2 linked regions of the Homo sapiens genome follow. The protein of the gene in region 1 purifies or fractionates together with the protein of each later gene. This does not show direct contact. Each region holds a gene or a part of one and is shown on either strand. Other genes may lie near its edges.

Evidence for each region.
Region 2: the proteins of CLDN18 (region 1) and THEM4 purify together in Homo sapiens (affinity purification with mass spectrometry; 2 studies listed by BioGRID and IntAct, with this or other methods). This does not show direct contact.

Annotation. Positions count from the first base shown.
Region 1 is NC_000003.12:138,005,171-138,014,188, forward strand, and holds the start of CLDN18 (claudin-18), read left to right. Parts: upstream 1-4,994; 5' UTR 4,995-5,055; coding exon 5,056-5,275; intron 5,276-9,018. UniProt on the Homo sapiens protein: Involved in alveolar fluid homeostasis via regulation of alveolar epithelial tight junction composition and therefore ion transport and solute permeability, potentially via downstream regulation of the actin cytoskeleton organization and beta-2-adrenergic signaling.
Region 2 is NC_000001.11:151,905,205-151,914,718, forward strand, and holds the start of THEM4 (acyl-coenzyme A thioesterase THEM4), read right to left. Parts: upstream 4,308-9,514; 5' UTR 4,255-4,307; coding exon 4,156-4,254; intron 1-4,155. UniProt on the Homo sapiens protein: Has acyl-CoA thioesterase activity towards medium and long-chain (C14 to C18) fatty acyl-CoA substrates, and probably plays a role in mitochondrial fatty acid metabolism. Plays a role in the apoptotic process, possibly via its regulation of AKT1 activity.

The sequences.
Region 1 (9,018 bases):
CAAAAATCAAATGCTTCATACAAACTTGTTGGGTTTTTTGTTTTTTTTCTTTTCTATTTTTGATGATGAATATTTTTTATTATTATTATACTTTAAGTTCTGGGATACATGTGCAGAACGTGCAGGTTTGTTACATAGGTATACATGTGCCATAGTGGTTTGCTGCACCCATTAACCATCTACATTAGGTATTTCTCCTAATGCTATCCCTCCCCGTGCCACCCACCCCCCTAACAGGCCCAGGTGTGTGATGTTCCCCTCCCTGTGCCCATATGTTCTCATTGTTCAACTCCCACTTACGAGTGAGAACATGAGGTGTTTGGTTTTCTGCTCCTGTGTTAGTTTGCTGAGAATGGTTGTTTCTAGCTTCATCCATGTCCCTGCAAAGGACATGAACTCATATTCGTTTTTTTCAAAAAGGCTCAAACTCAGTAATTAAAGAGATGCAAGTTAAAACAAGTAATCATATACATATATAACTTACCAAATTCACAATGTAGACTAGGATGTAAAGAGATAAGAACTTTCAAACACTGCTGTTAGGATAAAATTCATAGAAAGCAATATGGTTGTGTATAAAAAAAGATTTTTTAAAACTTCACAGTTTTTGACAACTTAATTTCACTCCTAGGAATCTATCCTAAAAGAGTCATCAGAAATGCTGACAAAGAGTTATATGTAAGATGTTCATCATAACATTGCCTTTTATTCAAAAAAATGGGGGAAGGTACAATCTAACTATATAAAAATAAGTGAATAATAGCACTTCTATATAATGAAATACTAACACACTCATATTAAATGATGTTTACAAGAGCTTTGGTGAAACTAATACAATTAAGTGAAAAGAGCAAAACATCAAACTATATTATCCTTTAATTATGTAAAAAAATACATACAGATAATTGATAAGAAGGAAGTATGCCAAATATTTTGTCTAGGGCTTAAAATTGTGAGCAATTTGTTCAAATTCTCTCCAAATTTTCTATTATGAACACCAAAAGGTGAAATTAAAAATTAGGGATATATGTGGTAATATTTTTGAAGAAAAAATTAATAGATGTGTCAATTATTTTTCTCACTAGTATATTCATTTTATTTCTTCCTAATTCCTAGCTATAATATTTTCTATTGTTATTTATGCCACCATTTTTGCCTAATTACCATAGACAGTGTTATAAAAAGTGGTGGAAATGTTTTCTCCAATGGCAGTAAAATAATATAAGCTCTTGGAAACTTACAACCTGAAATGACACTGCCAGGGCCGTATTTAAACCTGAATGCAGGGATGATTTCCCCTAGGAAGTCAGCAAAAATTCAGCTCCATTTTAAAGGTGATTAAACAAAGTTTACCAACCCCATTATTGTTAAACAGAATCAGACCTGGACTTATCTGGTAGAGATACATTGATATGTTTCAATAAAGCCTATTGCCATAAATGAGAAAGTCATATTTTCCTCTGCAGACCCCCATTCATTTTTTGGCAGATACGGCTAAAATAGTAGTCTGCTCAGAGCCCAGAAAACTTACCAGGAAGTGAAAAATCCTATCTTCCAGGTGTTTTAAAACACATCAGTATTTATTTCACACAGAAGAAGTGTGTAGATTTACAATTTCACTCCTCTCATTCAGTATTCTGCCTAGGTAGAGATAGTCTTAGTTTATCCTTTAAAATTAACTTTTTCTATTTTCAAAAAAGTGTCACTGTCACCATTTCAGCCAAGAAAGAAAATTTAATTCCTTATTATCTGAATAACATTTTTCCCTATTTTGAAACTCTGCATGAAAACATTTGCATAGGGAAACTGGGGGGGGAATTGCCATAGATGAAAAATAGATAACTTTAATCAACAATTTTTTTATTTTTCCATCTTCAATCTATGTTTTTGGTGGTATTCTAACACATGTATATGTATTGTCGGGGGAAGGTTAGACAAATGTCATAAATTGAACATCTGAAAATCAAACCAATAGAGCTTTTTAAGAATAAAAGGATACAATTTGACCTAGCAATCCCATTACTGGGTATATACCCAAAGGAATATAAACCATTCTACTATAAAAGCACATGCACACATATGTTTATTGCAGCACGATTTATAATAGCAGAGATGTGGAACCAACCCAAATGCCCATCAATGATAGACTGGATAAAATGTGGTACATATACACCATAGAATACTATGCAGCCATAAAAAGGAATGAGATCATATCCTTTGCAGGAACATGGATGAAGCTAGAAGCCATCATCCTCAGCAAACTAACACAGAAACAGAAAACTATACACCACATGTTCTCACTCATAAGTGGGAGCTGAACAATGAGAACACATGGACACAGGGAGGGGAACAACATATACTGGGGCCTGTCGGGGGTCGGGGGGGTGAGGGGAGGGAACCTAGATGATGGGTCAATAGGTGCAGCAAACCACCATGGCACATGTATACCTATGTAACAAACCTGCACGTTCTGCACATGTATCCTAGAACTTAAAGTAAAATAAATTTTTTAAATGAAATAAATTTTTAAAATGAGGATTAAAAAGCCTGCCTGTTGGTTGAAATAAAAGTAAGATAGACTCTGTCTATGGAAACAGTGGTAGAATCATTCCTGAATTATTCCAACAACAGTTTTCAACCTAATTGGTCAATCTATGCCCACCAGCAGAAACCAGTGTCACTTCTAACTGTTCCCTTCCCTCCTTTTAGAATTGGCCTTGTAACAACTCAAGGGACACACTGCCATCAACATTCCTTCACTGTAGATCATGTAACTGTTGCTTACCCTCTTATTTTAGGCTTTCTGGCTCATGCTTCACTAGAAACACTGATCACAGAACCTAAAGTAAGGTGTGCAGTGAAGGGGAGTGTTGCCTCCATTCAAATTAGAGGTAGTTCTTCCCTATTTGCTTTCTGTGTTTGCTGGGAATAATGCAGTGGGAGCAGAGGCTGGGTGCACCCAAGATAACAAAATGTCCAGACACAGAGGCTCGTTTCCTGGAGAACCTGTAAAGACCTATAAAGGTTAAAGATTGGAGTATGTATGTGGGGGGGGAGTGTGGGGGTGTGTGGGGGTGTGTGTGGGTGTGTGTGTATGTTTCAGGGCCTTGAGGTCCAGATTTTGGAGAGTGTCATTAAAATGTCTCCGGAGGGCTGGGCACAGTGGCTCACGCCTGCAATCCTGGCACTTTGGGAGGCCGAGGCAGGCAGATCATTTGAGGTCAGGAGTTCGAGGCCAGCCTGACCAACATGGTGAAACCCCATCTCTACTAAAATACAAAAATTAGCTGGGTGTGGTGGCAGGCGCCTGTAATCTCAGCTAGTCAGGAGGCTGAGGCAGGAGAATCGCTTGAACCCAGGAGGTGGAGGTTGCAGTGAGCCAAGATTGCGCCACTGCACTCCAGCCTGGGCGACAGAGTGAGACTCCCTCTCAAAATAAATAAATAAATAAATAAAAACAAAATATATCTGGAAGCCAGGCACAGTGAGTCACGCCTGTAATCCCAGCACTTTGGGAAGCCAAGATAAGCAGATCACTTGAGCTCAGGAATTCGAGCCCAGCGTAAGCAACATGGTGAAACCCTGTCTCTACTAAAAACATAAAAATTAGCCGGGTGTGGTGGTATGCATGTATAGTTCCAAATACTCTGGAGGCTGAGGCATGAGAATTGCTTGAACCCAGGAGGCAGAATTTGCAGTGACCCCGATGACAACACTGCACTCCAGTCTGGGCAACAGAGCAAGACTCCATCTCAAAAAATTTTTAAAAAGTCTCTGGATTCAGAGGCCAGACATACCTGGCCCCCATATCCGTCAACCAATTCTCTAGCAAAATTTAGTTGTATAGACAAAACATAACACCTGATGTCTTCAGCCAAGTCTCTCTACTGTGATTATACAATTCCTAATATTTTGACCAATTCTAGTGAAAACTTTTCTGCAAAATGTAGAAGATAGTGTATGAGATCTGAAAAGGCTCTGGAGTGTTCTAGTTTAGATCTCACATGTTGTGGATGAAGAACCTGTGACCTACAAGGGCTTAGGAGTTTGCCCCCAACCTGCCCAGCACACGACAAGTTAGGGGCAGCATCAGGAGCAGATCCTAAGCCTCTCCGTGACCAGGCCAAGGACTTCAGCCCAGCTAACCCTGGTCCCTCCTCTGGCCTTTGTGGGACCTCCTGTGTCAGCCACAGAGTCCTCATGTGGTTCTTGTGGCACGAGTGAAAGCATGACATGGAAATCAACGGGGTCCCTGGCTTCCTCTCATCCCAGTTCCAATGCTTATGGACCAAGAGCATAGATCTAGGATTTGGCTTCGTGTTCTCAAAAGTGGGGACAATTTTGCCTGCCCCTGCTGCTCCATATGGAAACAGAGAAAGAGCGCTGGACTGGAAGCTGAGGTGGGAGCCCCACCCCTGCCGTTTTTAGAGTATCTGTGGTTCCAGGCACTGGGACAAGTCCCTTAACTTATCTGTACTTTTCTTGACTCACCCCCAAAAAATGGGGATAATAGTGCCTGCCCTACCCATTTCTGTAAGATCAAAATGGAAAGATGTAAGTGAAAAAAGTCGTTCATGAGTTGTGAGGAGAAAATGTGAAAAGTCTGGTTTAAGACAGAGCACGGTGGGTGCTTCCCAGGGGCCATCTTAAGCGAGGTCAGCCAAAGTGGTCTGCAGTCACGTTCCCCGTGGTGGGGACACGTCAGCCTTTTCTCCAGATGGCGGCGCTCTCCGGAGGAGCCGGAGCTGGAGGGAGGCCGGTCTGGCCCGGAGCAGGGAGTCCTTCTGCTCCCTGGCACGGCTCTGCGCTGAACCCACCCGGCCTGCGGAGAGCAGACAAGTGCCTCTTGGGCCCGCTTCTCTAACAAATGTAAAAATAATGCCCTTGAACCAGGAGCGAAACTGAGCTATCTAAGGAAAACACTGTGAGCAAATACTGAGAGCCTAGGGAAACCATCTGATTAGAAGAGCTCCCCTCAGGAGCGCGTTAGCTTCACACCTTCGGCAGCAGGAGGGCGGCAGCTTCTCGCAGGCGGCAGGGCGGGCGGCCAGGATCATGTCCACCACCACATGCCAAGTGGTGGCGTTCCTCCTGTCCATCCTGGGGCTGGCCGGCTGCATCGCGGCCACCGGGATGGACATGTGGAGCACCCAGGACCTGTACGACAACCCCGTCACCTCCGTGTTCCAGTACGAAGGGCTCTGGAGGAGCTGCGTGAGGCAGAGTTCAGGCTTCACCGAATGCAGGCCCTATTTCACCATCCTGGGACTTCCAGGTAGGCACCGTGCACCCCGGGGTAGAGCCAGGTGAACCAGGTGAGCAGGGAAGGGGGCGTTTGCGTTAAGCCCCACTCCCACCTCTGGGTGAGGACCCTGGCAGCTCTGGCTCAGAATGAAAGGTGTGAATAAAAGGAGAAGCTGGCTCGTGTCTAATAGGGCAACAGTCATGCAGGAGAAAATGGGAGGGTTAATACTCAAGGCGAAGGAATCGCTAGTGAGGAGGCAGGCCTCAAGAAGAATGGGTCTATTGTAAGGGTATGTTCATGATACCTGGAATAAACTCGTGTTTCTCAAGGAGAAAATAAATTGTGTGCATTACTTGCATGTGGCTTGCTCCTGCCTGCACATACATGGGAGCAGGGAAGCAGGATGCTGAGTATTTTGTTATATCTGGAAAAGTTTATTGAGAGCTAATTTAATTTTCTTTCCATTTCAATTAAATTTTTCAAAGTTGGAGTCTCTGTGGGTGCCAAAAAGAATATTGCCATTAAATTATAAATATCCTTTTGCTGCATTTGTATTAAGAATATCTTGTATACTGTCCTAAAAATCAATGTATATCAAAATATAATTACAGAATTATAATTATATTATGTCAGAATATAAATATAATTATAAATGTGACATCCTTTCACCCCTAAAGATGAAATAAATTAAACCCCTGCTTTTAATATAGATAATTACTTCAAATATGCATCATAGCAACTTTGCATTCTGAATAATATGGGAGCTCTATTTGTATTTTTAAAATGCAAACAAGAAAATAATAGCTCTAGCTAATTAGTGGCTCTAAGGGGTGGCCAAGATGTGAGTGTGATGGAGAAAGGAGAACAATGTCTCTGAAACAAATACCTTTTATAAACAAGTAGATGGAAATAAATTTGCAAGAAATTGTGAAGAGGCTGTAGAGCCCTTGAAACTGAATTGAATTGTGAAAAGCAATTCAACTAATCCAAGTTCATTTTCAGAAAGAAATAGAAGATGGGTGTCAGAGTAGAAGAATTTGATTATTTATTCCATTTTTTGGAAGCCACTTATTGCAGGACCAACAGGATGACTGACTCCGGGGAAAGACCTGCTTAGGGAAGCAAGGGAGGTAGAACCTGGCCAAAAGAAAGAGAACCAGACTGAGGAGGGATTATGCTGTAGTGGGAGGGGAGAGGTGAGATGCAGGAAATGCCACACAGAGTGTTGAGTTGCTAGTTATGTCTAATTTTAACTATCATATAAAGAAAAAATATTGTCCTCATATTCAAAATTAAGGCATGATGTCTTATGACTTCATGTTCAATAACCTCTCCCCAGGGCCCCACTACATATTATCAATCTCTTGCTCACTGTGTATCACAGTCTCCATACATGGGGCTCCTGAATATTCCCACTCTCCTAAATGGGCAAACCCCATTGCGTCCACTGTGACTTGTCACTCCTATTCTGTCAACGGATCTTATCTCCATGACACCCTCTCAGAATAGCTCCACCTCTCCCCCTTGATGGAACAAGATTATCTTCCCTGCTTTCCTGCTAAGGTCAACCTCTCCTGCTAAGGTCAACCTCCCCAGCAGGGCTCTGAAGGCCTCATGCCACCTGTCTGGGATCATGCCCTGTTGGTCAGCCCCTCTCCTCCTTGCCTCTTTCATCTCTTCTCCTCACTTATGCATATGGCCTCCTTCCTGGGGAAATCTGTTGATCCTGATCATTGTCAAGTTCTGTCTCTCTCCTGGGTCACTGACAAACCAAATTAAAAGACTAAGTTTTTCCACTACCTCTCACCCTTAACCTTTCTCAGTCTGGTTTCTATCCTTCATCTCTATAGAATGTTTGCTTTTTTGACCATAGCAGAGGATGAAGGGGAGTATTTCAGTCACCAACTCCTAGTTCTCAGTTCTCATCTCCTTAGACATTTCAAAACCCAAACAACTTCCACGGTTCCCCATTCCCAGCTTAACTAGGTGCACACATAACAGCCTGACACCAAGCCTTCCTAACCCCTCACCTACCTTCCTTGGCAGTCTCTTACTCCCCCATCCTGTTTCTTCTGTCCTTTCAGTATACCTTGGACTTGGTCCTGGACATCCATTGCTCCTGCTCCCCTGAATTCCCCCCTCCACCACCCCAACTGTCCTCTCACAAATCTTCCTCCAAACCTCCTCAAGCCCCCAAATTGAATAAAGATTCCACAAGTCTCTGTACCAAACCCAGAGCATTCTCATAGCATTGAGCATATTCACCCCGCGTGACACTGCTCTCAAATCTGAGAAGCATTTATTGCATACCTACAAAGAGTACACAACACAAAACTGGCCTTGTCGGCACCGTAAATTCCAGCAGAGGGGACAGGCATGTGTGTGAATATCAAAGCAAAGGCAACACATGTCATGGGGCTTTGACACAAGTGTTTGGAGCCCAGGAAGAAAGTGGTTATTCAGTAGGAAGAGTCAGGAGGGGAGGAAATCAGGACAGTTTTGCTAAGGGAGTTCTGTTTGAGTCTGAACTTTAGCTTACTAACTTGGTTATTTGTACATTTGTGTCATTCAGCTTCTATGTGGTGTTTCCCTTCAGCTGGATAAGAATTATTTCCCCATTTCCCAGAAAAGCGCCTGGTAGAGTGAGTATTTAGCAAAGGATTGATAAACTAAGTTGAATTAAATAGTACGAATAGTTCATTTTAAGTGTTTATGCAAGCCATTGAACTAAAAACAGGTTAAGGTCTTCCCCAAAAAGGACAGTAAATCATTTTTGTACTATAAATTTTTTGTTATTATGGCTCCATATATAGAAAAGGACCTGGTCCTCCTCCTGCCTGGAACAGATTCATTTGTTCATCCAATCATGTATTTAACAAATATCTCTTGCATGCCTACTGTGTTGCAGAGACTAGAGTTCAGGAACTCTATTAGTCAGAGTAGTTAATGTCTGCTGCTGCAACAAACAAACCTAAACATCTCAATGGCTTGACACAACAAAAGTTTACTTCCTGCCCACATAAAGTCCACTGTGGGAAGAGCAGCCTCCTTGTAGCTACACTCTTCAAAGTTGCTGGGGCAAGAGAAGAAAGGCTTGAAGGAGGCACAACAGTTCTTAACTGCTTCAATCTGAAAGGAACACATGTCACTCACAGTGCGTTGGCCACAACTAGCCATATGGCCCCAGGAGCTGGGAGATGTAGGAGCACATAGCTATTGGGTGAGCACCTACTGTCTCTACCACAGGGAGCATTTGAGTAGTAACTTCCTGGGCTGCAACACATCAACCACACTAATTTCAGTTCTGCCAGACAGATAATTCCCTGAACATCAAATAGTCAAAACCAATGAGATTGCAAAAGAAGATATACCATTAATTTATATTTAAACAAATATGATAGAATTATATGTGTAAACTATCATCTGACACAAGATAATATATAGCGTGTAATTTCAGAGCTAGACATTTTGGTGGGGATGGCCTGGAATCAGGAAAGAGGAGGGGTTTAAGGTAAATTTCTGCAATGTAAAAATTCCCTAACATTTAATAACAGAGGAATGTAAATATGGCCATGGGGGTGGGGGCGGAAAGCACATTTTTTTCAAAAAGTAAGGAGGAAGAAAGGAACAGTGGGTGAGGGAGAGAGGGAGGGAAGGTGAGAAGGAAGAAAGTAGAGAGGAAGAGAGGGAGGAAGAGAGGTGGGAGAATTGGTGATGCTAGGTACTTTTATTCCGTGTCAGGCCAGACAAAGAGCTCTTAGAGAGAGAAGCCA
Region 2 (9,514 bases), on another chromosome or scaffold:
TCATGCCATTGGCAGACGCAAGGAGCCTGGCCTCTTGAGTTCCTGTGTGGCAGGGTAGGAGCAGCTCCCTCTTCCTCTGCTGAGGTTTTTCTCTTTTTCCTTTTTTGCCCAATAAATTCCATTATTCTCACCCTTCTGTGTCCACAAGACTGATCTTTCCTGATTGTGTGACAAGAACTTAGATGAATTGAGAAGAAAGTCCTTTTTTTTTTTGAGACAGAGTCTCACTCTCACCCTAACTGTGTTTGGCGCTCAAATATGGGGCCTGAGGAAGTGAGGCAGGAAATTGAAGAAAGCAAAATAAAATTTAAAAAGTGAAAAACAAGCTTTCTATATGAGGCTGACTCATCCCAAAGGCAGTAACAGGCAAAGCCCTGACCCGGGTGTAGTCTTGATAACATTCTCAAAGAAACCAGGGCTCAAAGGATGTGCTCTGGAGACTCTTCCAGCACTCCCTCAACAAAAGGATAAGAAAAAGTAAAGTTCCCCCTTGAATCCCATCCCCTTCCGTGTGATTGTACCTTGCTCTGCAAGTTTTATGAGTTTATAGATTCCTGTTTTCTGTAACTAGTAACTTCAAGTATTCTGTTTTATCTAAACAGCACAGTGAAGGTTATAAGACATGCCTGAGTAGGCCTAGGCTGCGGCCGTCTGGGCACCATAGTGAAGATTATGAGATAAGCACTTGCAAGGCTCTTTTGAGCAAGCCTAGATAACAGCCACCTGGGCTGCATAAGCAAGGGTCATAGTGAGAGGTGACAGTGTGCTGGAAGTCCTCACAGCCCTCGCTCCCTCTCGGCGCCTCCTCTGCCTGGGCTCCCACTTTGGCGGCACTTCAGGAGCCCTTCAGCCCACTGCTGCACTGTGGGAGCGCCTTTCTGGGCTGGCCAAGGCCAGAGCCGGCTCCCTCAGCTTGCAGGAAGGTGTGGAGGGAGAGGCGCGAGCAGGAACCAGGGCTGCGCGGGGTGCTTGTGGACCAGCTGGAGTTCCAGGTGGGTGTGGGCTTGGCGGGCCCTGCACTCGGAGCAGCCAGCCGGCCCTGCCGGCCCCACGCAATGAGGGGCTTAGCACCCGGGCCAGTGGCTGCAGAGGGTGTACTGGGTCCCCCAGCAGTGCCGGCCCACTGGCGCTGCGCTCGATTTCTCACTGGGCCTTACCTGCCTTCTGGCGGGGCAGGGCTCGGGACCTGCAGCCTGCCATGCCTGAGCCTCCCACGCCCTCCGTGGGCTCCTGCACGGCCCGAGCCTCCCTGATGAGTGCTGCCCCCTGCTCCACGGCGCCCAGTCCCATCGAGCACCCAAGGGCTGAGGAGTGTGGGCACACAGCGTGGGACTGGCAGGCAGTTCCACCTGCAGCCCCAGTGCGAGATCCACTGGGTGAAGCCAGCTGGGCTCCTGAGTCTAGTGGGAACTTGGAGAACCTTTATGTCTAGCTAAAGGACTGTAAATACACCAATCGGCACTCTGTATCTAGCTCAAGGTTTATAAACACACCAATCAGCACCCTATGTCTAGCTCAGGGGTTGTGAATGCACCAATCGACACTCTGTATCTAGCTACTCTGGTGGGGACTGGGAGAACCTTTGTGTTGACACTCTGTATCTAGCTAATCTGGTGTGGACGTGGAGAACCTTTGTGTCTAGCTCAGGGATTGTAAATGCACCAATCAGGGCCCTGTCAAAACAGACCACTTGGCTCTACCAATCAGCAGGATGTGGGTGGGGCCAGATAAGAGAATAAAAGCAGGCTGCCCAAGCCAGCAGTGGCAACCCGCTCGGGTCCCCTTCCACACTGTGGAAGCTTTGTTCTTTCGCTCTTTGCAATAAATCTTGCTGCTGCTCACTCTTTGGGTCCACACTGCCTTTATGAGCTGTAACACTCACCGCGAAGGTCTGCAGCTTCACTCCTGAAGCCAACGAGACCACAAACCCACCGGGAGGAACGAACAACTCCAGACGTGCTGCCTTAAGAGCTATAACACTCACCACGAAGGTCCGCAATTTCACTCTTGAGCCAGCAAGACCATGAACCCACCAGAAGGAAGAAACTCTGAACACATCCGAACATCAGAAGGAACAAACGCCGGACATGCCGCCTTTAAGAACTATAACACTCACCACGAGGGTCCGTGGCTTCTTTCTTGAAGTCAGTGAGACCAAGAACCCATCAATTCCGACACAGTATGTAATCCTGAATTATGCACCTGTCACAATTTGATGAATTAATTGCCTTTGTGCTGCCTCTGTATCCTTGCTTTCACGCCACTATGCTTCACGCCACTGTAAGCTTGTTTCAAGCTAGCCCACCCCCTTTTAAAAGTGTGTATTAAAGTCAAGTGCTGTCTTTGTTCTGGGCCCAGCTTTTGGATGTTAGTCCGCTGGGTCTGAGTGCACTCAATAAAGTTCTCCTGTCTCACCCCATGGCCTCTCCAGTCCTCCTTCATTCCTGCAACAGAAGGATGAGTGAAATGGGGACTCAAAACCTCTCACTTTCATTTCTGAGCCTTTTGGTCTTATGGCATTCCTCTTCTTTTTGGGGGGACAGCAACGGCACCTATTTTTCTTTTTACGATACTGGAGGTGGTCCACACCCACCCCAATGGTCACCAGTGCACTCACAAGACAGTTGGGTGGGGTAGCTCCCTGGCCCCACTTCTTTACTGGCTGGGGTGCATGGTGGTGTCTGCAGCATGTGTGTGTGGTGTCCAGTAGCCACACAGGGCATAAATGAGCCACAGCCACTGCCCAGGCTCCAAGGCGCCGGCATGGCTGGCTGGCGTTCCCTACCAGGTGCCTGCAGTCTCCCCCTCCCCATTCCAGGGAGTCTAGCTCTGTCCCACAGCAATTAAGCTCCTCTCTCTGGTGGAGGAACCATTTGCATAGGAATAAGAGGTTCTTCCCCCAGGCATCCTTATCTCCTCTCCAACCCATCAGCAGTATACTTTTAAAGGAGGTTTTTCTTTTCCTTTTGGAAGACGTTTTGCTCTTTTGGGAATGATGAGGATTACCGTTTATATTTTCTGTAAAGTTTTGTGCGAAAGGATTTGTGAGGTAAGTCGTAAGCTGTAGCCAATCTGTGTGTTTTGCATGTCTTTCTGTATGCTCCACAGCAAACTTCGCTGCAGGCCTCCATCTTGTTTTACGTCCTTGGGGGCGTGGCCTGTAACCCCATTGCATAGCTTCGTTTAGCCCGGCATGGCCCAGATTCATCCTGGCTTAGGGAATGAGTCCTTTCTGGTTTGGTATCTGTATGCCCTTTCGCTATTTGTCGATTCCCCTGCCCTCCACCAACCACCTTGGATTTTCCTTTCTCTGAGCCTTTAAGTAAAGTTTGAAAGCCAGAAATATTGGCCGCTTGGTGGAGCTAAAGTTAGATAATAAGGGTGTTAAAAGAATTTTCTTAAGGAGTGCTCAGCTTAATTAAAAGTAGATATCTAAGTTGTAATTATATTTATAAGGCCTTTATGTTTTCCTTTTCTTGGACCTTATTTTGCTGGAAAAAGTGTTTCTTTGCGGTCGACTGAGTTATTTTTCTCCATTTTGCCTTGCCACTTTTAATGCCTGCATAAGAGGGGCGATCTCTGTTTTCCTCATGGAACCCCAGGAATTAAAAGCAGATAGATCCCTCTCCCTGTGATGAAAGATCTTATGGCAACTGGGTTTTCTTCTGCCTGTCTGTGTAGTTATATATGTGTTGTGTGTGATGTCTATAAAAAGATCTCTAATTAATTGACCTAAAGGAAGATAAGCGTTTGGATCAAATATTTTTTTAAAGGGAAGATAAAAGCTGTGGTATCTTTTAGTTCACGTCACTTTAATCTTTGAAAAATAAAAACAGCCTCAAATATTATTGGTAAAATACAGATGTTGTCAAAATATAAATAGACAGACTAAATTATGCAGTTCAGGTAGCGCCCTGCCGACCCTGTCTCTTAAAAAACAAAAAAACGGGGTCACCTTTCCATCCCTTTTCTAACGGTTTGAATCTCAGGACTGTATTCCTAGGCCCCTGTTGCTTATGCTGCCCTGTGGTGCCCAGGTGAGCTTTTATTCTGAGATTGGCTGGTTGGGGTATGGATAACAATCGAAGGCTCTGTTACCGCAGGCGTGTTTCTGAGTCCTGCTCCCGCCCCATGCCCGAGGGTGCCCAGACTCACCAGCTCGGGTCGCGGCTCGCTTCCCGGCAGGCGCCGGCCTACTGGCGGCAGGCACAGAGCCCCCAGCGTGCGGAGGCGCGCGGCGCAGCTCCTCAGCATGGCTCCGGGCCGCGGGGCCGCGCTTGCTCTAGCCCTGGACGGCGCACTCTACCTCCGCCACAAGAGCGCGCGTGCGAGTTAACCCCTGGGGTGGACGCAGGGCGGGGCTTGGGGAGGAGGCGGTGCGCACTACTGGCGGCTGGCTGGCCGGGGTGTGAGGCCGGCGGGGTCCGGGTAGGGCATCGCTGTTGAGTCTATCTTCTGGTTCCGGCCTTTTCTTTCCGAAGACCTCCCGCTGCGGCCAACAGCCGGGCCACTTCCGGGGCTTCTCAAAGGCAAGAGGAGCGCGGCCGGAGCGGATCCCGGTTATCGCCTTGGGCCCCTCAGCCCCTCAGCCCCGGAACCCGCGCGCCGACTGGAGGCTTTGCGGTCATCCTTCCCACATGACCCAGGGCGTACGCAGTGCTCCGTGTCCCCAAGTAGTTATCCCTCCCCCGGAAGACTGAAGTCCCTGGGGCGGGTAGGAGCGCACGCTAGGAGTAGTATGAATAAAGTGTTTTCTTGGAGGTCATGGGCAAGTCTCTGGACAGGGTTGATAGTGCTGATTTATAGAGGGCAGTCTGGGCACAAAGAGCATTTATACGATCGAAAAGCTGCTTTCCCTGCCAACAGCCCCATACCCTCCCCAGGAGCGCGCTTACGCCTTAAAAGACTCTTTTGTTATGTAAACTGACAGTTAAATTAAACGAAGGTAATGGATACTAAAGGCGTAACAGGTATTGTAACTATTTTACTGTTATCGATGCTTTTGAGGTTACTTACCTCGCTTGTATTCGTATGGTGGGAATACTAGGCGCATACCTTCTGAGCTTCGAATTCAGTAACCTCACTGGGACCTTGAAATCGGACTGGGTTGGAGTATTCCCATTACTCAGATAATGCAAATCCGGGCCATCATACCCCTTTATTTTTAAATGCTTACCAGTATGCCATAGCCCTAGTCCATCCTAAGGTGAAGACTCTAATGGGTTTTTTTTGAGACAGAGTCTCGCAGAGATACTGCTATTGCACTTCAGCCTGGGCAACATACTGATGCCCCATCTCAAAAAAGCAATAAATTAAAAAGAAAACTCGAATGACCTGAATGCATTAGATATTTTGCCTTGATTCCTTTCCCATGAACAACTCCAGCAGTTTGTCAGTAGGTAAGAACACCTAGATACATTTTAAGCCTACACTATTAACTGGGGGAAGGTGTAACATTCTGAGAGAAAGGGAATTGGGGAGAGAAGGCAATGCAGTTAGGAGGGGCCCCTTGGAATCCTAGAGCTACTGAACCGAAGATCAGGCATAAAGGATGGTTGTTGAGATTCTGTAATTCTAAGAGGTTGTATTCTGATATCTCCTAAGCACCCCCCCCAACCTCCCACATTCCCTTTATCTCAGTTGTCTTCCTTTTTAATATATTAATAGTATTGCAGTTTCCTGGTGGCAGGGATGGGGTCAGATTGCCTTATTAATTGTAACAACGTGCACGTAGTGCTTGAATACTTACTTAGCAGCAAGAATCCAAAGTATCTTTGGTGTCTGTTGTCTTCCCATGTTGTGCGTGCAGATGGAGGCACGAGCATAACGTAAATCTCTAAAATTGAGATGACTACTGTTAATGAATAGAAAAGTTTATTCAGGTAACTTAAAATTGCATCTATTTACAATTTACAGTGTAGTCAAATCAATCAATACCTATAGACTTCAACCCTGCTAAGATTGTCTATATGATTAATGTACCAATAGCTCACCTAACAGCTTCCTTTTGTTTTTTTGAGATGGAGTCTCACTCTGTTGCCCAGGCTGGAAGTGCAGTGGCATGATCTTGGCTCACTGCAACCTCTGCCTCCAGGGTTCAAGCGATTCTCCCTGCCTCAACCTCCCGAGTAGGTGGGATTACAGGCGCGTGCCACCACATCTGGCTAATTTTTATATTTTTGGTAGAGACGGGGTTTCACCCTGTTGGCCAGGCTGGTCTTGAACTCCTGACCTCAAGTGATCTGCCTGCCTCCCAAAGTGCTGGGATTACCAGCATGAGCCACTGCACTCGGCACCTATCAGCTTCTTAAAAGACCTTAGACTTAGGGCAATTAGAGGTCAGTTACACTGAGTTTAAACTTCATTAAATTTTAACTCTAAATTTTTCAAGTAGCGGCAGTGCATTTAGTTAAGTCATCCACACTCTTGCATGGCTTACTCTGGGATATTCGTGTTGACAGCACATATAAAATGTCTGGTCAGATTTGGAAGAGGAAGGGCAGGTTACAGTCTAGAAATAGGATTGATAGGCTATGGAAGTGAAGGAGTTTGAAGCTTGTATGGTTTAGGCAAGGAACAAATGTTCAATCTTGATAGAACTAGGCTTCGAATAAGCCAATGGTATGAAACTTAATAGTCTTCTCACCATTCTTTAATTTTGTAGACAGCTTTATTGAGGTGTAGTTGCCATAGGATGGGCACCGTGGCTCATACCTGTAATTCCAGCACTTTGGGAGGCTGAGGTGGGTGGATCACCTGAGGTCAGGAGTTTGAGACCAGCCAGGCCAACATGGTGAAACCCCGTCTCTGCTAAAAATACAAAAATTAAGGCCGGGCGCAGTGGCTCACTCCTATAATCCCAGCACTTTGTGAGGCTGCAGCGGGCAGATCACGAGGTCAGAAGATTGAGACCGTCCTGGCTAACACGGTGAAACCCTGTCTCTACTAAAAATACCAAAAATTAACCGGGCGTGGTGGCGGGCGCCTGTAGTCCCAGCTACTCGGGAGTCTGAGGCAGGAGAATGGCGTGAACGTGGGAGGCGGAGCTTGCAGTGAGCCAAGATCGCGCCACTGCACTCCAGCCTGGGCGACAGAGTAAGACTGAGTCTCAAAAAAAAAAAAAAAAAAAAAGTTAGCCAGGTGTGGTGGCGCATGCCTGTAATCCCAGCTACTTGAGAGGCTGAGGCAGGAGAATCGCTTGAACCTGTCAGGTGGAGGTTGCAGAGAGCCGAGATCGCGCCATTGTACTCCAGCCTGGGCAACAAGAACGAAACTCCATCTCAAAAAAAAAAAAAAAAAAAAAGCCAGAGGCAGTGGCTCATGCCTGTAATCCCAACACTTTAGGAGGCTGTGGCAGGCGGATCACAAGGTCAGGAGTTCGAGACCAGCCTGACCAACATGATGAAACCCCGTCTTTACTAAAAATACAAAAATTAGCTGGGCATGGTGGCGTGCACCTGTAATCCCGGCTACTCGGGAGGCTGAGGCAGGAGAATTGCTTGAACCCGGGAGGCGGAAGTTGCAGTGAGCCAGGATTGCACCACTGCACTCCAGCCTGGGTGACAGAATGAGACTCCGTCTCAAAAAAAAAAAAAAAAAAAAAAAAGAGATAGTTGACATAAACTGAACATATTTAAAGTATACAATTGGATGTTTTCATACAAGTTTACACTCATGCAAACATCACCATAATCAAGATAATGAGCCACAAAATATTACCCACAAATTTGCTCATGCCCTTTTGTAAATCCTCCCTTCTATCGTACAGTACTTTCTGTCACTGTAGATTAATTTCCATTTTCTAGAGTTTTATATAAATGGAATTATATAGTATGTACTTTTTGTGGTCTGGATTTTTTTAATTCACTATAACTATTTTGAGATTCATCCATGTTTTGCTTATGTCGAGAATTTATTTTTTAAAATTGCTGAGTAGTATTCCATTGTATGGATGTACCACAATTTTTCTATTCACCCATGGATGACCATTTGGCTTATTTCCAGTTTTTGTGAATTACAAATATAGCTGCTGTGAGTACAAGTCTTTGTATGGATGTATGCCTTCATTTCTCTTGGGTAAATATCTAAGAGTGGAATGGTTGGATCATGTGGTAGATGTATGTTTAACTGTTTAAGAAACTGCCAAACTTTTCCAAAGTTGTTGTATCATTTTACCAGCAGTGCATAAGGATTTCAGTTCCTCCATATCCTTGCCAGCCTTCGGTATGGTCAATCTTTTATGTTTTAGCCATTGTAACTAGATGTGTGTAAGTATTTTATTGTGGTTTTAATTGGCATTTTCCTAATGATGAATAATGTAGGACATCTATGGGCTTATTTTTCATCTGTGTATCTTCTTCATTGAAACGTCTATTCAAATATTTTGCCCATTTAAAATAATGAGATATTTGTATTCTTATTATTGCACTTATTAATGCACCTCTGATAACATTTCACATCTAAATTTTAAGTTAAATTTCAAACCTTCCATTTATAAGAAAACTGAATGTCAGCGTGATGCTAGCTGCTTTAATATTTCTTGCTGAATTTTTCTTGGATTTGTTGTCATAGGTCTCACTCTTGGAAAGGATGTATTCTTGAATTGTTATCCATGGGGCAAGGCACCAAAATGAGTCTCCGGCTGGGTGAAGGGTCCATCTTCCCTTTCAGTAGTGGAAGAAGGGTGACTGTGAAAGAGGAGGTTGAAAAGAGGAATTGCAGGCTCATTTTTAGGTAGATACAATTTATCTGCATCATTAATATTTTAATATAATGTACAGAGTTATTGTGTGGTTTTTTTTAACCATCATACAATATGTCCAAGTAATGTTGTATGGTTCTTGAAGTCATTTTAATCACATGGAGGAGAGGGAGATTTCTACTTGTGGGGTGTCAGGTAGATGGTATTGTCATTTACTACCTGTCATATGCTTTAGCTGCACAGGTCTCCTTTCAGCTCCTGGAGTGCCGCAGGCTCTTTCCTGCCCCAGGGCCTTCTTGTGTGTTGATGTTCTGCTTGTAATGCTCTTTCCCCCTACTCTTTCGTAGCTAACTCCTACTAAATTTTTGGTGTCAGCATAATTGCCACTTTCTTAGGGAGGCCTTCCCTGAACAAAGTGCTTACTAGGTTTCAGACAGTATGCTAAGTGCTTTATATACATGATTTTATTTAATCTGAATTAGGTCTTCATTAAATTCTCTCAGAGTGCTGAAACTTTTCCTTTAAAGCAATTATTATAGTTTGTAGTTAAATATATATTTGTGTGCTACCTGTCTCTCTGAGGAGACTATAGGCTTTTTCCATGTCTCTTTGGTGTACCCATGCATTCAGTGACGTGCAGATCTTAGACACTCAAAAATAATTGTTGAATGAACTAATGAGTGGGAAACATTTGGAAGGAGGGCTGGGATCTTCTTTTCTCTCTCAACTTTTTCTCTTTAGTTGTCTCATCAATTCCCATGGTTTAAATACCTTTTATTTGCTGATGAATCTTAACTTTTTATCTCTAGTTCA